Regions from separate parts of the Homo sapiens genome. Here all the other regions are linked to region 2. Evidence: fine-mapped expression QTL. A gene starts in region 2. Each other region holds a variant in brackets. All regions are shown on one strand. Distances are from middle to middle.

Region 1 (6,568 bases), 32 kb after region 2:
GGAAAACAGGTTCATGGGCCTGAGTCCTTAGCTTGTGTAAGAGGGAGTTAAAACAGATGTGTGCTAACCTTCTAGGTCTAAAGTGTATCTAGTCCTGGGTATAAAGCTTGTCCTGGGTATGATTTTCATCCAGTCTTTATACAAAAATACTCATTGAGTTCCTGCAGATAACTGTGCTGGGCTTAAGAGAAAAGAGATGTAACAGGGATAACTGTGCTGGGCTTAAGAGAAAAGAGATGTAACAGGGGTAACTGTGCTGGGCTTAAGAGAAAAGAGATGTAACAGGGGTAACTGTGCTGGGCTTAAGAGAAAAGAGATGTAACAGGGATAACTGTGCTGGGCTTAAGAGAAAAGAGATGTAACAGGGTCTCTTCGCTGAGCAGACCTGAGCCATTAAACAGATTGTTACCCAGTAGTTGAAATTCAGAATGGAAAATTGGTTTTAAGTAATGAACATACTTTATTTTTTTCTCCTCCTTTTAGATGGTGAAGAAAGCCAAGACTATGATGAAGAATGCTCAGAAGAAGATGAATCGGTTGGGGAAGAAAGGGGAGGCGGATAGACACGTGTTTGATATGAAGCCCAAGCACTTGCTGTCTGGGAAGAGGAAAGCTGGTAAAAAGGACAGGAGATAGTATCCGTTTGGTTGGCGTGGCTTCGCTAGAGTGTTGCTGTTTATTTCCTGGTTTGGCACAGTATGGTTTCATGAAATTGGAGCTCTGTATAAACTGAAAAAGACAAAATAAGTAAAGCACTTGTTGCTTTGCTGAAAACTATGGTTAACCCTATATAGGTGTGGGAAATTTTTGTCACTGCATAATATTACAAATATTTTGAGTAGACAGTGTTTCCACATTTAATGGAGTATCAGTTGCTTCAGATTTTCAGAACTGGGAAGATTTACTGGTTTAACTAGGTTGTTTTTGATGGAGAAAAACCTTATTTTCTTTTGTAAGAGCTGGGAGCAAACACGTTTATGAGTGTGTCGGAATCCCGTGCTTAAAATACGCTCTTAAATTATTTTCTAGTCTTATTTTACAATGTCTCATTGTAGTCTGTCTTCAACTATTTTATCCAAAATAAACCTCCAGAAGAAAGTAGTTTTCATTTACTTAGCTCATGTTTTGGTTTAGTTATAGTCGCTATGGATTTGGCCAAATAAAAAGGCAAACAACATGACATTTCTATTTTGTTTTAAAGCAAAAATACTTTTGGGGGAGTAAAATGTTGCTGGAGGCATTAGGCAATTAAATATGGGCATTCTCCTATTTCTGTGGCCCGTCCCTGAAGTTACATGTTCAGTAAAACACAAAAACACCGCCAATGCCACCTCAAAAGCACCTGCTGGGGAGCGTTGGGGTGAAGAGCTGTGGGGTCGGAGGGACCTGCCCAGGGGTCCGTGTGCTCCTGGAGCTCCAAAGACACACAGGGGTCCAAGAGCCACCACGGATAAGTTATCAAGTCACACAATCAACATTATAGCTGAGGAAAGGACTTTAGTTAATCACACTTCTGGATTACATGTGGCAATTTTAAAAATTTACCAGGGCTGGGCTGGGCGCAGGGGCTCAAGCCTGTAGTTCCAGCACTTTGGGAGGCCGAGGTGGGCAGATCAGGAGGTCAGGAGTTCGAGACCAGCCTGGCCAACATGGTGAAACCCCATCTCTACTAAAAATACAAAAATTAGCCATGCGTGGTGGTGGGCATCTGTAATCCTAGCTGCTCGGGAGGCTAAGGCAGGAGAATTGCTTGAGCCCAGAGGCGGAGGTTGCAGTGAGCCGAGATCGTGCCACTGCACTCCAGCCTGGGTGACAGAGAGAGACTCCGTGTGAAAAAAAAAAAAAAAATACCAGGTCTGGTTTTTGAAATTCTTTCTCCGTATTAAACACCAAAACTTAACATATAGTTTACTTTGTGTTAAACAACAACAGTATGGCCGGGCGCGGCAGCTCATGCCTGTAATCCCAGCACTTTGGGAGGCCGAGGCAGGCGGATCACGAGGTCAGGAGATCGAGACCATCCTGGCTAACACGGTGAAACCCCGTCTCTACTAAAAATACAAAAAATTAGCTGGGTGTGGTGGCGGGCGCCTGTAGTCCCAACTACTTGGGAGGCTGAGGCAGGAGAATGGCTTGAACCCGGGAGGCGGAGCTTGCAGTGAGCCAAGATCGCACCACTGCACTCCAGCCTGGTCGACAGCGAGACTCCATCTCAAAAAAAAAAAAAAAATACCAGGTCTGGTTTTTGAAATTCTTTCTCCGTATTAAACACCAAAACTTAACATATAGTTTACTTTGTGTTAAACAACAACAGTATGTTTTAAAGCAAGTATGTCTTTATTTGTAAGCATATTACTGAAACGATCAAATGAACAGAAGTGGATAAACGTCGAGTCACTTGGCTGAGACCATACGCATCTTCCGTACTGCTTGTATTAGGATGCAAGATTGAATGTGTCTTTTTTTTAAAAATGCAGCCTTGTGTTGCACTCTGAAATAAGTGATTTAAAAAGAAAAACATGATACAGAGATCCCATCCTGACCTTGGAGGCTTGGATAAAGCTGTGGGGAGACAGCCTCATGGTCCAGCCAGGCTAGTCCGCCTGCTTCAGGACTCTCAAGATCTCCCCAAGACTTTCAGGATCAGCTGCTGTTAATCAAACAAGTGCTTATAAAATGGAAATTGGGACAAAGGAAATGTTAAATTTCCTCCCTGCAACCAGGCAGATGAGAAATATGGAAATAAGGAAAAGGGAAAATGAAGATATGACAAAGTTGATGAAAAGGTTGAAATAGTGATTTATACATGATGGGCAATCAAGTGCCCCTTTTGCCCTGTTTTTTGGAGAGGGTGTATCATTGCCTCAATGGTGCGTCTGCCTGCACTGAGGGCATTACACATGGCTGACTCGACCTCCCTGCCTCT[C/T]ACACTCTGTGTATTTTGTGAAGCTCCACAAACGGGGTCACGTCATCCAGGTGAGGCCACCACCGGTACAGAAACCTCTCGGCAATGGTTCTTAGCCAGGGGGTGACTTTGACTTCACCCCTCGCCTCCCTCTCCAGCAGCTCCCACAGCTCCTCCTGGGACAGGTAGAGGATGCTTTTCGTTTCACTGGGATCCGGGTTCAGAGTGACGTTTTTCCTCACAAGCAGAAGGTAACAAATTTCATGCTCTCCCCAAATTCTGTCTGATTTTGCCTTGTGGTGATAGATTGTCATGAACACAATGTCCTCTGGAGAAATCTATTGACAGAAATTGGTGCAGTGTTAACAACGCTAATGTAAAACACAGAATTTACAGAAAAATAGAGAAAATAAACACATTTGTTTTCCTCAGAAAATGAACACTTTCTTTGGTAATTGATAATTTCCAAAACCTCGATTTTAGCTAAGTAAATTTTTGTGGACTCAAGTCTGAATGATAAACCGGCTTTGGTTTCTTGGTTCCAGTAAACCTGTCTGTCTTCATTTAAAGAACTAACCGTGTCACACACACATCCTCAACAGAAAACCCCGTAGAAACCGGCTAGCGTTGTCAGGAGAACATCCATCCTCTCTTAAACGTGTTCTTGAGTGGATGAAGGTAACACATGCTCACAGGATCCTGGACATTCTTTCTACACTTGAATTTCTTTCTTTTTTTTTTTTTTGAGATGGAGTCTCGCTCTGTCGCCAGGCTGGAGTGCAGTGGCACAATCCCGGCTCACTGCAACCTCTGACTCCCAAGTAGCTGGGATTACAGGCGTGTGCCACTACGCCCAGCTAATTTTTGTACTTTTAATAGAGACGGGGTTTCACCATGTTGGCCAGGATGGTCTTGATTTCTTGACCTTGTGATCCGCCCGCCTCGGCCTCCCAAAGTGATGGGATTACAGGCGTGAGCCACCACGCCCGGCTTGAATTTCCTCTTCGGTGTGTGGTCGACAGATTCCTGCACAGTCTCAACCCTGCCTGGGACACATAGGGACTCACACTGCCCCATCCACAGCTACATTCACAGCCCCATTCACAGCCCCATTCACAGCTCATTCACAGCCCCATCCACAGCCCCATCCTTCATCCTCATGGTGCTTCATGAGGTCAATGGTGTAGATCCAGCCTGGACTTTGTTCACCGTCTGCCCGCTGCCAACCTGGACTCCCGTGGACACAGCTGAGACTGGATGCTGTGTGTACCTGCTCCCCAGGAATTCCCAGCTCTGCTTGCAGACGCCTCTGGGCTGCCCTCCTCACTCCGATGGCATCCTTTTCTTCCAGTTCTGCTGGGTTGTATAATGGGTGGCTACTACAGGAGTCGGTAAAATACCCTGGAAAAAATGCATGTGGGAACATCCCTCTTTATTCCTGAAAAGTGAATATATTAAATACAAATGCAGATGCTTCATGTAAAACCATCATCCGTCATCAGCAGAAGACAGCCTGGCGGGGGGAGTGGGTTTGTCATGGGCTCTCAGAGCAGCACTCGCCTCCAGCCTCCACGGCTGTGGGCTTGGTGAGGGTCTTCCACATGACCACCTGGCGGGGCTGGCCCTGACCGCTCCTGCGGCCCTTCCTGCAGATGTGCACACACATGTCCCGTGGCACTATCCCAGTATGTCTTAGGAGAGGGACTGGTTCCTACTCAGTTTTGTACCCACAGAGGACCTGAGATGCCATGGGGTGGCGGGAGGAGGTGGTGGGGCTGTGGGCTGGGTGGCTGCACCAGCTGGGCTGAGGAAGCTGGGCTGCACTTTGAGGGTGGTGATCAGTGAGCATGGTTTCACAGGAAGACTGCTGGAATACCTTTGACCAAGTTTCCTTACTGAGAGGTTCTACTTAATTTACCCAAGTAACAGCAATAGCGCTATGACGGGAGGTCACACTCTCCTCAGTAAATCTCTGTTCCCTCTCGTTCCTCAGACCCTCAGTGCTTCCTTCGGTCACTCTGCAAGGAGTTTGGCTGAAGTTGAATCCACTCTTGCAAGTACAAGAGCTGGTACTCCCACCTGCCCCTATGTATCCTGGAGGCGGCTAACACATGATAGGAAATCTTAGCTCCAGGGGCTTTATTTGCAAACTGTTGACTATGTACTACAGTTGACCCTCTTAACTTTGCAGCTCCTGAATTTTTCTGAAACAAACTTTGCATTCAGCTCCATCAAGGAGCCCGTGAGTACAACTTGACCAGCAAGTATGGTGGTGGGTTTGGGAATGGGCAGGATGTACCCACTGCGGCTCCGAGGAAGAACTAAGGGAGGAGAAAACCTCGGCCACAGCTGGCCGTGCTTAGCCATTCGCTTTAATGGCTCAGGCAAGGTCTGGTTTTGAAAATTTGAGGACAGCCTAGGCCAAAACACTTTAAATGACCACAATTGACGTAAATGCTGTTCCCCTCTAAAAAATTTTTTGGCCGGGCCCGGTGGCTCACGCCTATAATCCCAGCACTTTGGAAGGCCAAGACAGGCATATCACGAGGTCAGGAGATCGAGACCATCCTGGCTAACACGGTGAAACCCCGTCTCTACTAAAAATACAAAACGTTACCCGGGTGTGGTGGCGGGCGCCTGTAGTCCCAGCTACTTGGGAGGCTGAGGCAGGACAATGGCGTGAACCCAGGAGGCGGGGCTTGCAGTGAGCCGAGATGGCGCCACTGCACTCCAGCCTGGGTGACTGAGCCAGACTCCATCTCCAAAAAAAAAAAAAAATTTTAAGTTGTAATTTTAAGAAGTACAAGATAATTAAAACTCTAAGACCTGTAAGATAATTTTTATTATTATTACCTAGTTAATTTTATGCTAAATGCTATTTTAATCCCCTAAATCCTTAGGTTGATAAATTCCTCTGCATTTAAGTAACTTGCCGTTGCAAAGAAACAACAAAACAAAAAAACCCAGAAACTCATATAGTTTCTTACTTTTTTAAAAAAGAAAACCCAGCCTACTGAAGAGCTATCAGCATAATTAGCATCTGCCTAAGCTGCCGATTTTCTGCAGGATGAGCTGCCAGCTCACCACAGTGCGGCACTGAGCACCAGAGAGTTCCTGTCCCAGATTCCTCCGGTCAAGTCACATGAGATGCTCTCTTCAGTCCGGGGCTTGGTTGAACGGACTCACCAGGAAACGTGACTTTCGTGTCCGACCTCTGCTGTATCAGGATTCGATTCTTGGTGTTAAACAAGACAACGCTGAAGGCTCGGTGCAGCAGCCCTGCAAAGGTAAGTGCCATTTGTGTGAGTGCATGCCTGGAGTCTGTACGATTGTCCTTCGTGCTTTTTGTCCTCAGTCTGTTTCTCGTAGAAAAGCCTGTGATTGTGGCACCTGGGCAGGGCAAAGGGGACTGCTGGATGCCCAAACACAACGTTTCAGAATCTCAGCGGATTAGAACACTCGGGAAACTAAAAATAGATCTACCAGATGACCCAGAAATCCCACTACCAGGGCAAATATCCAAAATAAAAGAGATCAGTCTATCAGAGAGATATCGCAGCATTCCTGGGTGCTGAGCACCATTTACGACAGCCAAGATATGAGATCAACCTGTGTCCGTGGAGGTTTGAAGGGTTGAAAACATGAGGGTTAGATACACAGTGG
Region 2 (6,568 bases):
CCTGTAGTCCCAGCTACTCGGGAGGCTGAGGCACTTAAATCTGAGAATTGCTTAAACCTGGGAGGTGGAGGTTGCAGTGAGCCAAGATCACACCATTGCACTCCAGCCTAGGCGACAGAGTGAGACCCTGTCTCATAAATAAATAAACAAACAAACAAATACCAAACAAGGTAATAACTCTACAGAGGTCAAGAACAAAGCCACTCTCGGCTGGCAGTGCAAAAGGAGAGTGGCTTTGGAGTTCCATGCGCCCTGAACGCACCTCATTGTGTCTCTCCAGCTGTGTGACGGTGAGCAAGCACTCAACCACCTCAAAGCCAGCACTCTTGTCTGTGAAACAGAGACAATCACACCCACCTCACTATGCTGTCCCGAGAAGAAAGCAAGTGACCTGGCACATGGTGGAGGCTCCCTGCATTGCAGTTGTTAAGGTTCAACGATAATTTAATGAATAGAACAAAAGTTTAGCAAATATTATTGTAACTAAGCAGCTAATAAGAACATAGATAATACATAATGCATAATTAATAATACACAATCTCTTTGCTCACTTATTAATGCCTGTAGAATAGGGTTAGTGAAAAGCTAAAATAATTCACATAAAGTATTTTTAACATGCCTGGTAGATAGTAAGTGAGCAAAGAGTGAAGAAACAGAGGCTTGGGGAAGCTGAGACATTTTCCCAGGATCACAGCGGGTGGAGCTGTATCTCAGAAATGAAGCTCACAGTCTTAACTCACTGTGTAATTCTGCAGAGAATGTCAGGCTGCACCTTTGGCCCGGAGGGTGGCTCTCATGCCATTGCTGCCTTCCACCTAAGGAGGTGTTTCCTTAGACCTCCCTGTTGACAGCTTTCCTCTTTATGGCACAGTGTGGAGTTCTGACCCACTTCAGGGTTGTGCAGAGGGGGTCTGACAGTACTGTAATTCAGTAGGACTACTTGAGTATTGCAGAAGCTTGATTCCAACCGCTACAGCCCCTACATCAGGAACTTACTCAAGCCAACATTCAATCAACGGAGTTCCACAGTCACTGTGAATGCTCTTGGCAGTGCTGCCTGAGGTGAGGGATGGCAAAAAAGTAAGACACAGTTCCTGTCCACGAAGAGCTGGCTACTTCTTTTGGAAACAAGATGTACACAAGGAAGCATCTAGGTACAAAGCAGCATGTGACTCGTTCTGAATGAGTTCCTGTGGGGATCCAGGGAAGTGGCCGACGGGCCCAATGGAGCACTCATAGGACCCTCTAAGACCGGATGCCTACTGATGGCTAATCCCCATGTAAAGGCTCCTTTCAGGCAGGAAGTTCAGTTCTGCAAAATGTACCTTTCATCCATCAGAATTACAGCAACGAGAAGGTAAAACAGAAAAGACCAAACCCACAAAATAAAAAGGTCTGAAAAACAAAGCTTTTTACTGAGAAGTGCCTCGCAGTCAGAAGCTTTGCAGAGTACCCTTGAGAGCATCCTTTACTACAGCTGAGAAGTACCTTTCTGTCACAAGGTACACACTCAGAGGCGTCCTGGCAGCTGGAACCTGCTAATGCAGTCAGGAACTGGCAATGTGCCTCGTACTGCAGGCAGCATTTGCGACACTCCTCAGAAAAGGCCTTTAGAGTTTGGCTTCCCCAGAGAAGCCCAGAAGTGTATGATAAAGAAGCTTGCTCCTAGTGGTGTAGAATACATACTTGCCCCCAAGAAGCTATACTCTGCCACAAAATCACAAGAACAGGCAAGGATGTTGATTCTCATCAACACGCACATGGTGTAAGATGCTTGGTACCTTATCATTGTTATAGCTCTGGGCCCATGATGAGTCATTATGGTTGTGCATTCACAGACATGCCTTTGTAGCTGAACAAGTTAAAAGCAGGTGGCTCATGCCTGTAATCTCTGCACTTTGGGAGGCCAAGGTGGGTGGATCACTTGAGGTCAGGGTTTGAGACCAGCCTGGCTAATATGGTAAAACCCTGTCTCTACTAAAAATACAAAATATTAGCCGGGAGTGGTGGCAGGTGCCTGTAATCCCAGCTACTTGGGAGGCTGAGGCAGGAGAATGGCTTGAACCCTGGAGGCGGAGGTTGCAGTGAGCTGAGATGGCGCCACTGCGCTCCAGCCTGCGCGACAGAGTGAGATTCCGTCTCAAAAAAAAAAAAAAAATTAAAGAAAGGATGTTTGCCCATCTGAAGCAAAGTATTGACTGGACTTATCTAAATACCGGATTACAAGAAAAAGAGGAACTGGCTATATCAGAGTGAGAGAAAGTGGGAGAGGTTGAGGAAACATACAAGAACCTAAAAGAAAGGGCAATAAGTATGAGCATAGCTTTGCTAATCTCGGAAATGGTGGCCAGAACTGTCCTGTGGTTTAGCAAATGATCATAGCCAGCAAATCCTAATTACCCTAGAAGCTTCCTTTAGAAGTGCCACAAAGATGTAGGAGGTATGCTTATCCGCCTTGTGACACAAAAATGGAAGCATAGTTAATAGATGAGAAAAGCATGACCCAGAATGATTTTCAATATTGGAATGCTGGGAATTTATGAGAGGTATTTTCGCGTAAGAATAATAGGACTTGTTTAAAAGGATTGGAGAGTGGGGGGCATCCCAGATGCGTGAGAAGCAGTATAGCTAATGGTTAGAAGCAGGTTTGCTGGAGCCAGGCTGCCTGGGTTCAAAGCCCACCTCTGCTGCCTGTTAGCTTGTCAGCTGCACAACCACGGGGTGCTTTCGAGCCTTGTGTGCCTTTGTTTCCCCATGCACTTCATGAGGCTGTTGCAGAAATTAAACGAGTTAATATATAGTCAGCAGCTCTGAACACTGCTTGACTGAGTCAGCCCTACCTAACGTTTAATTTAAGGGATGTGGCCCTGGGTTCCCAAAGGGAGCGGCCACTCTATTCACAAACATAAAAGCAGTAAAGGCTCCATCCTCATCAACCTTCTCCTCAGTTGGACCCCACAGGACTGTCTCTCGCAACTGTTCCCTGGGCTCTCCTAAGGCACTGCGCGGAACCAGCTGCACCTCTTTTGCCTTAGATCAGGCTTTCCCTTCTCCGCCCGTTTTGGGATTTAACAAGCACGAGAAAGCAGGGCTGCAGGGAAGCCGCGAGGGCCTCCTCACCACGGCCCGGGATCAAGTCCCACGCGCGAGGCCGGGGTAGGGGCGTCATCTGCTCCACACCCAGAGGCTGGGCACGCCCCGCACGCGCGGCTTCCTCCTCCTTTGCGGGGCTCGCCGCGACCCAGGACCCCCAGACTCCCGGATCCCCTAGACCCTCTGGACTCCTAAGCCCCGCAACTCCCAAATCCCAAGACCCCGGACCCTCCAACCCTGGCCCAGGGCGCGTGGCTGGGGGCCTGAACCCGCTCCAGAAACCCGCAGGGCAGTCTGTCGGAAACCCCCGCTTTACTCAGCAGGAATTTAGTCTCCGCGCTCCCCCTAAAACCCGGGCGTCCTCTCCTCTGTACCCTCGCTCCTGAGGCCCTCACACGCCCTCCGTGGCTGACCTCCAAGCCGGGCGGGTGCGCTGTGCGACGCGGAAAGCGCCGTAGAGCACGCAGAACACGATTGGCTGAGCTCCCGGAAGTGACGTACCTCAACCGCCCGACAGTGGAAGTCCCACCTGCGCCCGACGGCGGAAGTTCCGGGAGTGCCAAGTACCCGCGTGCATACGGCTGCCGGCATGGCACATTACAACTTCAAGAAAATTACGGTGGTGCCGTCCGCCAAGGTAGGCGGCCCCGGGAGGGCCACTGCAACTTTCGCGTTCTCCTCAGCTGGGTCCCCGGGGAGGGTCCGGGCCTGTAGCCGTGGGAGAGCGGTCGCCTTCCGCTCGCCCATCCCCCGCTCCTGGGCCTGACCGTCTGGCCGCGTACTCGGGATCATTTCCCCTCCCCCAGCAGAATCCGGGGTCCACCAGAGATCGGATCCCCCAGAGACCGGGGTCCACCTAAGACCGTGGTCCACCCAAAGACTGAGGGCCCCCAGAGATGGGGGTACACCCAGAGTTGGGTTCCCTGGAGGGGCCCCGGGTGACGATGTGGGCGAGTGGAGGGGGACCCCGACATGTGAGGGAGGAAGCGTTCCGTGGTCCGTGATGAGCCTTCGGATTCTGGGTTTGGCGTAGCCCCCTCCCCTCTCAGGAATCCTGGGTTCGTTGTTCTCGTGATTTAACGTTTCATAATTTTTAAGTCATTCTCTTTCACTGTTAGATTTGGGAATACCTGTTCCTTTTCAGACCATAGTAGGCCCAGACTAAATTTTTACAGCGTTGGTTGGTGTGGCAAGAATGAGTCAACAAGTGTTGAGTATTAGGACTTTTTTTTTTTTTTTTTTTTTTTGAGACATAGTTTTTCGCTCTTGTTTCCCAGGCTGGAGCGCAGTCTCGGCTCACTGCAACCTCCACCTCCCGCGTTCAAGCGATTCTCCTGCTTCAGCCTCCCGAGTAACAGGGATTACAGTCGTGCACCACCACACCCAGCTAATTTTCGTATTTTTAGTAGAGACGGGGTTTCACCACGTTGGCCAAGCTGGCCTCGAACTCCTGATCCCGGGTGATCCTCCCGCCCCGGCCTCCCAAAGTGCTGGAATTACAGGCGTGAGCCACTGCGCCCGGCCCTAGTATTAGGACTTTTAAGAAGTCACGTTTTTATGTAGTGAACATTCGATTTGGGTCGCAATTACACAGACATTGACGGGCAACTGGAGCCTCCCAGGGACTCCTGCACGAGAGGGAGTTACTGAAGTCCCTGCAGAGTGACTGTTTTCCCCTCGTCAGTGCCTCCTTTTCTTCAGGTCTCAAGGACGGGATGAGCTTGCCTTGGAAAGCTTTGTGGGAGTCTCGTATTTTACCTTCATAGCAAAAGTTGTTTCCCCACTTCTCTCCACCATTTCTTATTTCTTCCTGACAGTTGTTCTGGCACATCTCTTGATCGATTGTAGTATTTTCTTTCTTTCTTTTTGAGATGGAGTCTCGCTCTGTTGGCCAGGTTGGAGCGCAGTGGTGTGATCCTGACTGCAGCCACCGCCTCCCAGGTTCAAGTGATTTTCCTGCCTCAGCCTCCCGAGTAGCTGGGACTACAGGCATGCGCCACCAGGCCTGGCTAATTTTTGTATTTTCAGTAGAAGTGGAGTTTCACCATGTTGGCCAGACTGGTCTTGAACTCCTAATCTCAAGTGATTCACTTGCCTCAGCCTCCCAAAGTGTTAGGATTACAGGCATGAGCTACTGTGCCCAGCCAGATTGTAGTATTTTCGAGTGCAGGAGTCATGTCTTATTTGTATTTTTGGTCAACCATCTCTCAGGTTTGTTGAAGGAATTTGCTCTTTGGATTATATGAACTTTGTTCATGTTATTGACTTATGTGGAGAACTTTAGAATATATTATACACCATCCGTCTTCTGTTCTGTGGAGTGAGATTTATATTTTTAGAGAACAGATGACTTATCTAAAAACTGGGTGATGGTAATTGTTTGGTGATTGGAAGTAAAAAAAAAAAATCACATCGGGAAAGTGTGGTATTCAGTTCATTCTAGAAGATGTTGAGTGAGTGCCTGTCCTGTGCATCGGGTACTGTGTTACAAAAATGCATTAGATAAAATACCTGCCTCTTTGGAAGTCATTTTCAAGAGAGGTAAGTCGAGGCCGGGTGCGGTGGCTCTCGCCTGTAATCCCAGCACTTTGGGAGGCTGAGGCGGGCAAATCACGAGGTCAGGAGATCGAGACCATCCTGGCTAACACGGTGAAACCCCGTCTCTACTAAAAATACAGAAAAATTAGCCAGGCGTGGTGGCGGGCGCCTGTAGTCCCAGCTGCTGGGGAGGCTGAGGCAGGAGAATGGTGTGAACTGAACCCAGGAGGCAGAGCTTGCAGTGAACCGAGATCGCGCCACTGCACTCCAGCCTGGGCAACAGAGCAAGACTCCATCTCAAAAAAAAAAAAAAAAAAAAGTGGGGTAAGTCATATCTCGTATGACCATACTAGAAATAAAACATTGTTATCATGGAGGACACACATGGATTGGGAGAGGAGAAGAGTGTGGTTAGCTGTGGTAAGTTGGAGAGTCAGGGGGAACCTTATGAAGTAGGTAACCTTTGACTTGGTCCCCCTTCAGGATGTGCGAACGGCATTAGGTGCAGAAGAACGTAGAGAAGATCTTGTGTGGGCCCAGAGGGGAGACCGTGTGTGCCCCTCATAGTACTTGGCAGACTGTTGTGACCACCCGTTTACTTGTCTCACTTGTAGGCCCAGAGGGGAGACAGTGTGTGCCCCTTATAGTACTTGGCAGACTGTTGTGACCACCCATTTACTTGTCTCACTTGTAGGCCCAGAGGGGAGACTGGGCGTGCCCCTCATAGTACAATACTTGGCAGACTGTGTTGTGCCCACCTGTTTACTTCTGTCACTGGACCCTGAATTCCGTGAAGGAAGGGACAGTATCTTGTTCATTATCCTCAGCACCCAAGTATCCCTAACAACCTTTGTATGAAATAATATTGAGTTAATCAAATTGTTGAATTAATCAAAGTGTTCAAGAAAAAAGGTCAAGTAATATTGTGTGGCTAGAT
Region 3 (6,568 bases), 120 kb after region 2:
CAGTGTACCCACAAACCCTTCACCTAGGTTCGCCTGTTGTATTGCAGCACTGCTGTCTCTTTACACATGTGTACACACCTCTCTCTGAAACACACGCCCACTAACCCTTCACCTAGGTTCACCTGTTGTATTGCAGCACCGCTGTCTCTTTACACATGTGTACACACCTCTCTCTGAAACACACGCCCACTAACCCTTCACCTAGGTTCACCTGTTGTATTGCGGCACTGCTGTCTCTCTTTACACATGTGTACACACCACTGTCTGTAACACACAACACGCACTACCCTGTCACCTAGGTTCGCCTGTTGTATTGCAGCACTGCTGTCTCTCTTTACACATGTGTACACGCCTCTCTCTGAAACACACGCCCACTTCCCCTTCACCTAGGTTTGCCTGTTGTTGTATTGCAGCACTGCTGTCTCTATTTACACATGTGTACACACCTGTCTGTAACAGACACGCCCACTTATCCTTCACCTAGGTTCACCTGTTGTTGTATTGCAGCACTGCTGTCTCTGTAGATGTGTACACACCTCTGTCTATAACACACACTTGTATATTTTCTTTGGCTGAGCCCTTTGAAAGGAAAACTCCAGCATGCATTTTCTAAGAATAAGGATGTTCTCCTAATACAGTACCATTGTTCAAATAAGAAAATTAGTAAAAATTCTATGGCATCCTTTATCTGGTCCACATTTAAATTTACTCAGTTCTCCCCAAAATGTCTTTGATACTTTTTTTAGAGCTAGGATTTAATCAGGATTCTCTCATCACATTTAGATATTATGTCCTTTGGCTTCTTTTAATCTAGAATGGTCCTTCCCCCATTTTTTGTTACTTTTTAGGATATTGAGTTTTTTGGTGAAGAATCCAAGCCTGCTCTTTTGCAGAACGCCCCTCATTCTGCATTTTTCTTATGACTTCCTTTAAGTGCCCCTCTGCTGTGCTATTGGTGTGCTGAAGCGCTCCTGCAGTTAAGATGGCGTCTGCAGGTCTGCCTGCCAGAGGTGCTCTCCTGTTTCAAATAGCGAAGCGACACTATTCTATGGATGTTAATTCCCCAGTGACCTTTCCTCGGTCCAGGGCTTCAGCTCATTGTTACGCTGAGTCCTGCAGAAGGGGATCTTTGTACTTCTGTCTACACTGGTTAGTTGGCACTGTGTTTTTTGAGTATTAGCGAGCATAGACACCTGCACTTTGTTGGTGTTGGTGGTTGTGATCCCTGTGGTTGCTTTGGTTTTGGCTTCTGTGATGCCCCCCCCCCCCGTGGAACCTGCAGGGCCCTGAGTGCCACCATCCTGGCACAGCTCCCTGCCCCAGGCTGGGAAGACCCAGCAGCTCTCACTGCATTGACTCTGGTCATCTGTATGGAGCACAAAAATCTGTCAGAGCTTTGAGAATTGGGTGAAGAGGGTAGTTTTGTGTCTAGAGAGCAGGGCAGCTTCCTATGTGCTTCTGATATGGGGGTTGCAGGGATAGGCCAGTGTGCCCTGCTGTGCCTGTCCCCTTTGAGGGCAGGATGGAAAGGCCGAAGAATTCTGTCCAGAGGAGGACGCAGTGGAGCCAGGGCTTGGTGAGTTGCTGGTTTGTGCCAGGCACTGTTGGAGCCCCTGGCATCACCCCAGTTCAGAGAGAGAAACTGAGGCATGAGGAGGCCAGGTGGTTTGCTGAGGGTTTGGCTCTAGGGGGTCATTCCAGAGCAGTCCCTCCTGGTGCCTTCAAGGTGCCTCTTGTGTTATTTAAGACCCTTCTAGTCCTGTATTGTCTCTGTTCAGTTGCCATATTTAACTGGAAGATTTTATTTTTGTTTTGTGTAAAAAGAAAAGTTTTTGTATTTATATCACCAGAGTTGATTGCAAGTGCATGTTTTCGCTTCTAAGGCTGTTGCAACCGTGTGGTCTTGGCCATTTGACTGTGAAGTGAAGTCAGTGCTGGTGGCATCTTTAAAATATCTGCTTAGGCTGGGCGCGGTGGCTCACGCCTGTAATCCCAGCACTTTGGGGATCACCTGAGGCTGGGAGTTTGAGACCAGCTTGACCAACATGGAGAAACTCTGTCTTTACTAAAAATACAAAATTAGCCAGGTGTGGTGGCGCACGCCTGTAATCCCAGCTACTTGGGAGGCTGAGGCAGGAGAATCGCTTGAACTTGGGAGGTGGAGGTTGCGGTGAGCCGAGATCACGCCGTTGCACTCCAGCCTGGGCAATGAGCGAAACTCCAAACTCCGTCTCAGAAAAAAAAAAATTCTGGTTAATTTGTGGTACATTTTTGCAGCTAGTGGATACATGAAACAATGGTAGTTTTTTAGAGAGCTGTACTTATGAAGAATGTAGTAAGTGTTATGAAAAAGTTCTTACTAATGTGGACCTATGAATACAGTTTCCTAGGGTTTATGTCTTCCTATTGGAATCAGGTGTGGGGGTAGAGTAAGGTGGAGTGTGTAATTCCC[G/A]TGTGCCCTTTCTCCCACATGGGTCTTCCAGGCTGTAGGCTGTGCTTCCATTCACCTGAACCACGGGGGTGAGGTGAACGTGGACCAGACCTGCCCGGGCCATGCTTACTCAGATCGTTTACGCTTTCTTTTTTCTTACTCAAATTATCATGAACTAGCGTATCTTGTTGATGTGTACATCCAAAAATACGTTTTGAAAAGATCTCTCTTTGGCGCTAATTTTGTTGCTGTGTCGGGGCGAGTCCGCTGGGCTGTTGGACATTGAGCTTCCCCTCACCGGCCTGGCGGTTTCTCAGCTGTGCGCATGCAGGATGAGGGCTTGGTCAGCAGGTGGAGCCGTGGACGCCTTTATTGAACACAAACTCTTCCTTCCTGACATCAGATCAGCTGTAAACCTTTAGACGTGCCTCATAATGAGAAAAGCAGGAAATGAGTCATTTTACAAAAATGTTTCATCTGAGGTGTCTTCTTAGTAACACTTGCCTTTGTCTCCGGCATGGGTTTTGTAGGTTCGAGCCAATACGACAAATAAAACCTACAGAGTGCGTGATCCTTACAAATGTGTAGAGCTGTGCATCCGCGCCACAGCACACCAGGGTGAGGGCCTCGCAGTGCGGTTTAGGTCCTGAGATGTGCGTCCGCGCCCCAGCACACCTGGGTGAGGTCCGGGGTGCGGGTTTAGTTCCTGAGAGGAATGGCCAGGTTGTGTGTGTGTGTTCCGTTTGGTCACTTGTCTGGGACGTTCTGAACATGACTTGTAAGAGCACACCCTGGGTCCCCTGCCTTCCCTGCCACCATGTCATTCTGAGGGACCCTCTGCGCCGGGGGCTTCTCTGCAGTGGCCACGGCATCGCCAAGGACATCCGTGAGCCTCCGATGGGTGTCCAGCGTGTTAGCGCCCAGACCCACAGGGCCTGGCACCCTGATAGGTGGGAATGTTGGCCCAGGGCCGGGCCTGAGGCCTGCAGGACTGCCTGCTCATCCGGGAAGTAGCTCTGCCGGTTTTACAGGGTGATCCTGAGTTCTTTTCACTAGTTCTTTTCCTGAGCATTGAAAGCAAAAGTCAGACATGTGTTCTTAGGAAGTTTGCTGTTCTTGTTGATGTAGGCTGGAAAGTTATATGCATGGTGTTTTTAGTGATACCCCTTAAACAGAGGCAGTATTTCTTCAACATGTGTGACTAAAAATACCCTTTCTCACATAATTTATATTAACATGATGTGGAATGTGCTTTTCAAAGTTTTATCTTAGGGCGTATTTTCACTTGTAGGAACTAAGCGTAAATTCTTTAGTATAGTATGTTGGAATCTAATGTCTTTTATAATGTAAATAATTAACTGTCTAGTTAAGGTGAATTGCTGTATATTGGGTTTTCTTAAGGCAAGAAGTAGCTCTAAAGGCTTAAGGTAACTGGCCCAGTTTTGTGATCCAGTTTCCAGGAGAGATTTTTCCCCACTTTCTTTTTTTTCTTACTGTAATCCCCATACTTTTACTTGCATTCTGTGCCTTTTTGAAAGACTGGAGTTTGAGTTCCAATGCTTCACTGTAAGAAAGAAAAGTGTAGCGAAATGGGTCCCCTGAAACGTGTGGTCATTACCTTTGCTGGATGGGGATGGAGCTCCGTGCTGTGAGCTGCTGAAGGCTTTGATCCTACGTGTTTAGAAGGACCAGTCACCTTTTCCTTTTGATGTGTCTTATTTCTTTCCACTCTGTGTTGTGGCATCTCTGTATTATAGCAGGAATTTTACCATGATAGTACTTAGTTGGCGTAACTGTGTGGCTGTTTTTATTTGACTGTTTGTTAGTGACCCAGCGTGTACTGATTTATATGAAAAGCAATTTTAGATACTTCATATAGCAGAAATGTGAAGTTGTAGTATGTGTTGTTATTAGAAATAATAAAAAGGCTTAATTTGAAAATTTCAGTGTGTCACAGGAATTCAGCTGTTGGTGGCTATTTCTCTCTCTCTCTTTTTTTTTTTTGTGAGACGGAGTCTCGCTCTGTTGCCCAGGCTGGAGTGCAGTGGTGCAATCTCGGCTCACTGCAACCTCCACCTCCTGGGTTCAAGCGATTCCCCTGCCTCAGCCTCCCAAGTAGCTGGGACTGCAGGCACGTGCCTTGGTGGCTATTTCTTACACCTTGTTTGATTGCACTCCGTAGATTGATGTTTTTTGCAAATGAAGGTCTGTGGAGCCCAGCCCTGGCTGAGCAGGTCTGTTGGTGCCAGTTTTCCAACAGCACGTGCTCACTTCCTGCCTCTCTCTCACATTTTGGTCATTCTCACAATACTTCTTACTTTTTCATTGTGATTATATGAGGGTGGTCAGTGACTTTTGCTGTAACTGTTATAATTGGTTTTGAGGCCCTGGGAACCTTGCCCATAGAAGACAGTGAACTTAGTCGATAAATCGTGTGTGTTCCGACTGCCCCACTAACTGGCCGTTCCTTCGTCTCTCACCTTCTCCTAATGCCTCTGACTTCATGAGTGAGACACAACACTGTTGAAATTAGGCCAATTAACATCCCTATAGCAGCCTCTCAGTGTTGAAATGAAGAGTTGCGTGTCCCTCACTTGAAAGCTGGAAATGACGAAGCTTAGTGAGGAAGATGTGTCGAAGGCAGAGAGGCTGAAAGCTGGGCATCCTGCACTGGACAGCCAGGTTCTGAATGCAAAGGAAAAGTTCTGGAAGGAAAGTAAAACTGCTACTCCAGTGAACACACGAATGATAAGAACACAATCCTAATGCTGATATGAAGGAACTTTGAGTGGTCTGCATTGATTAAACCAGCCACAACATTCCCTTTAGCCAAAGCCTAATCCAGAGCAGGGCCCTGACTCTTCAATTCTGTGAGGGCTTAGAAAGGTGAGGGAGCTGCGGAAGAAAAGCTGGAAGCTGGCAGAGGTTGGTTTATGAGGTTTAAGGAAGGAAGCCGTCTCCATAACATGAGAGTGCAAGGTGAAGCAGCAAGTGCTGATGGAGAAGCTGCAGCAAGTTCTCCAGAAGATCCAGCTGGGATCATCGATGAAGATGACTATGTTTAATAACAGATTTTCAGTGTAGACAAAACAGCCTTCTGTTAAAGAAGATGCCACGTAGAACTTTCCTAGCTAGAGAAGAGAAGTCACTGCCTGGCTTCGAAGGACAGACTGATGCTCTTGTGAGGGGCTAGTACAGCTGGTGACTTACAGTTGAAGCCAGTGCTCATTTACCATTCTGAAAATCCTAGGGCCCTTAAGAATTATGTGAAACCTACTCTGCCTGTGCTCTATAAATGGATCACCAAAGGCTGGATGAGAGCACATCTGTTTACACCATGGTTTCTGAATATTTTGAGCCTATTGTTGAGGCTACTGCTCAGGAAAAAACTTTTTTTTCAAAATTGTCCTGCTTATTGACAGTGCACCTAAGGGCTCTGACGGAGATGTACAAGGAGATGAATGGTGTTTTCATGCCTGGTAACACAACCCCCATTCTGCAGCCCATGGTTCAAGGAGTCATTTTGACTTTTGAGTCTTATTATTTAAAAAATACACTTTGTAAGGCTATAGCTGCCATAGATAGTGATTCCTCTGATGGACCTTGGCAACGTCAATTGAGCACCTTCTGGAAAGGATTTATCATTCTGGTCGCCATTCAGAACACTTGTGATTCATGGGAGAAGGTCAAAATGTCACAGGAATTTGAGAGACGTTGAGGGGTTCAAGGCTTCAATGGAGAAAGTCACTGCAGGTGTGGTGGAAACAGGAAGATAACTAGGATTAGAAGTGGATCCTGAAGATGGGACTGAATTGCTACAATCTCACAATAAATTTGAATGGACGAGGAACTGCTTCTTATGGATGAGCAAAGAAAGTGGTTTCTTGAGTGGGAAGGTACTCTTGGTGAAGATGCTGTGAACATTGTTTAAATGACAGCAAAGGATTTTGAATATTCCATAAACTTCAGTGGTAAAGCAGTGGTAGGGTTTGAGAGGACTGACTCCAGTTTTGAGGTTCAATTGTGGGTAAAATGCCTTTTTTTTTTTTTTTTTTTTTTTAAGATGGGAGTCTTGCCCTGTTGCCTAGGCTATAGTGCAGTGGTGCTATCTTGGCTCACTGCAACCTCCGCCTCCCA

Which allele goes with the higher level. Alleles are on the strand shown, and positions count from the first base shown. SD is a standard deviation of normalised expression in the study named. Not every link is listed here.
In carriers of allele C in region 1, the expression in monocytes after interferon gamma of the gene that starts at base 3,637 in region 2 tends to be higher than with T alone (large effect, 1.5 SD a copy in Fairfax 2014).

The links. PIP is the estimated chance that this variant, and not a neighbour inherited with it, causes the effect. A credible set is the group of variants that fine-mapping cannot tell apart.
Region 1: its variant is the best candidate, but not a certain one, in a credible set for the expression of GTPBP4 in monocytes after interferon gamma (Fairfax 2014, PIP 0.70).
Region 3: its variant is the best candidate, but not a certain one, in a credible set for the expression of GTPBP4 in fibroblasts (GTEx, PIP 0.80).

The regions. Positions count from the first base shown.
Region 1 is chr10:1,016,592-1,023,159 of GRCh38, forward strand. It overlaps GTPBP4 (GTP binding protein 4), which reads left to right. Exons shown (of 17, transcript NM_012341.3): 17 at 484-3,341. The coding sequence ends at 636. IDI2 (isopentenyl-diphosphate delta isomerase 2) reads right to left here. Exons shown (of 5, transcript NM_033261.3): 3 at 6,092-6,184; 4 at 4,176-4,306; 5 at 2,319-3,243. The coding sequence ends at 2,926. It overlaps IDI2-AS1 (IDI2 antisense RNA 1), which reads left to right and starts at 6,046. Exons shown (of 5, transcript NR_027709.1): 1 at 6,046-6,192. The variant C/T (reference allele first, on the strand shown) is at 2,927.
Region 2 is chr10:984,798-991,365 of GRCh38, forward strand. GTPBP4 (GTP binding protein 4) reads left to right here and starts at 3,637. Exons shown (of 17, transcript NM_012341.3): 1 at 3,637-3,730. The coding sequence starts at 3,683. It also overlaps a transcript of LARP4B not described here. RefSeq lists an enhancer at 5,384-6,279.
Region 3 is chr10:1,107,483-1,114,050 of GRCh38, forward strand. All of the region lies in intron 11 of WDR37 (WD repeat domain 37), which reads left to right. Among named protein-coding and RNA genes, the nearest start is that of LINC00200, 49 kb to the right of the region's middle. RefSeq lists enhancers at 2,187-3,386, 2,704-3,286, 2,761-2,910, 3,287-3,867. The variant G/A (reference allele first, on the strand shown) is at 2,453.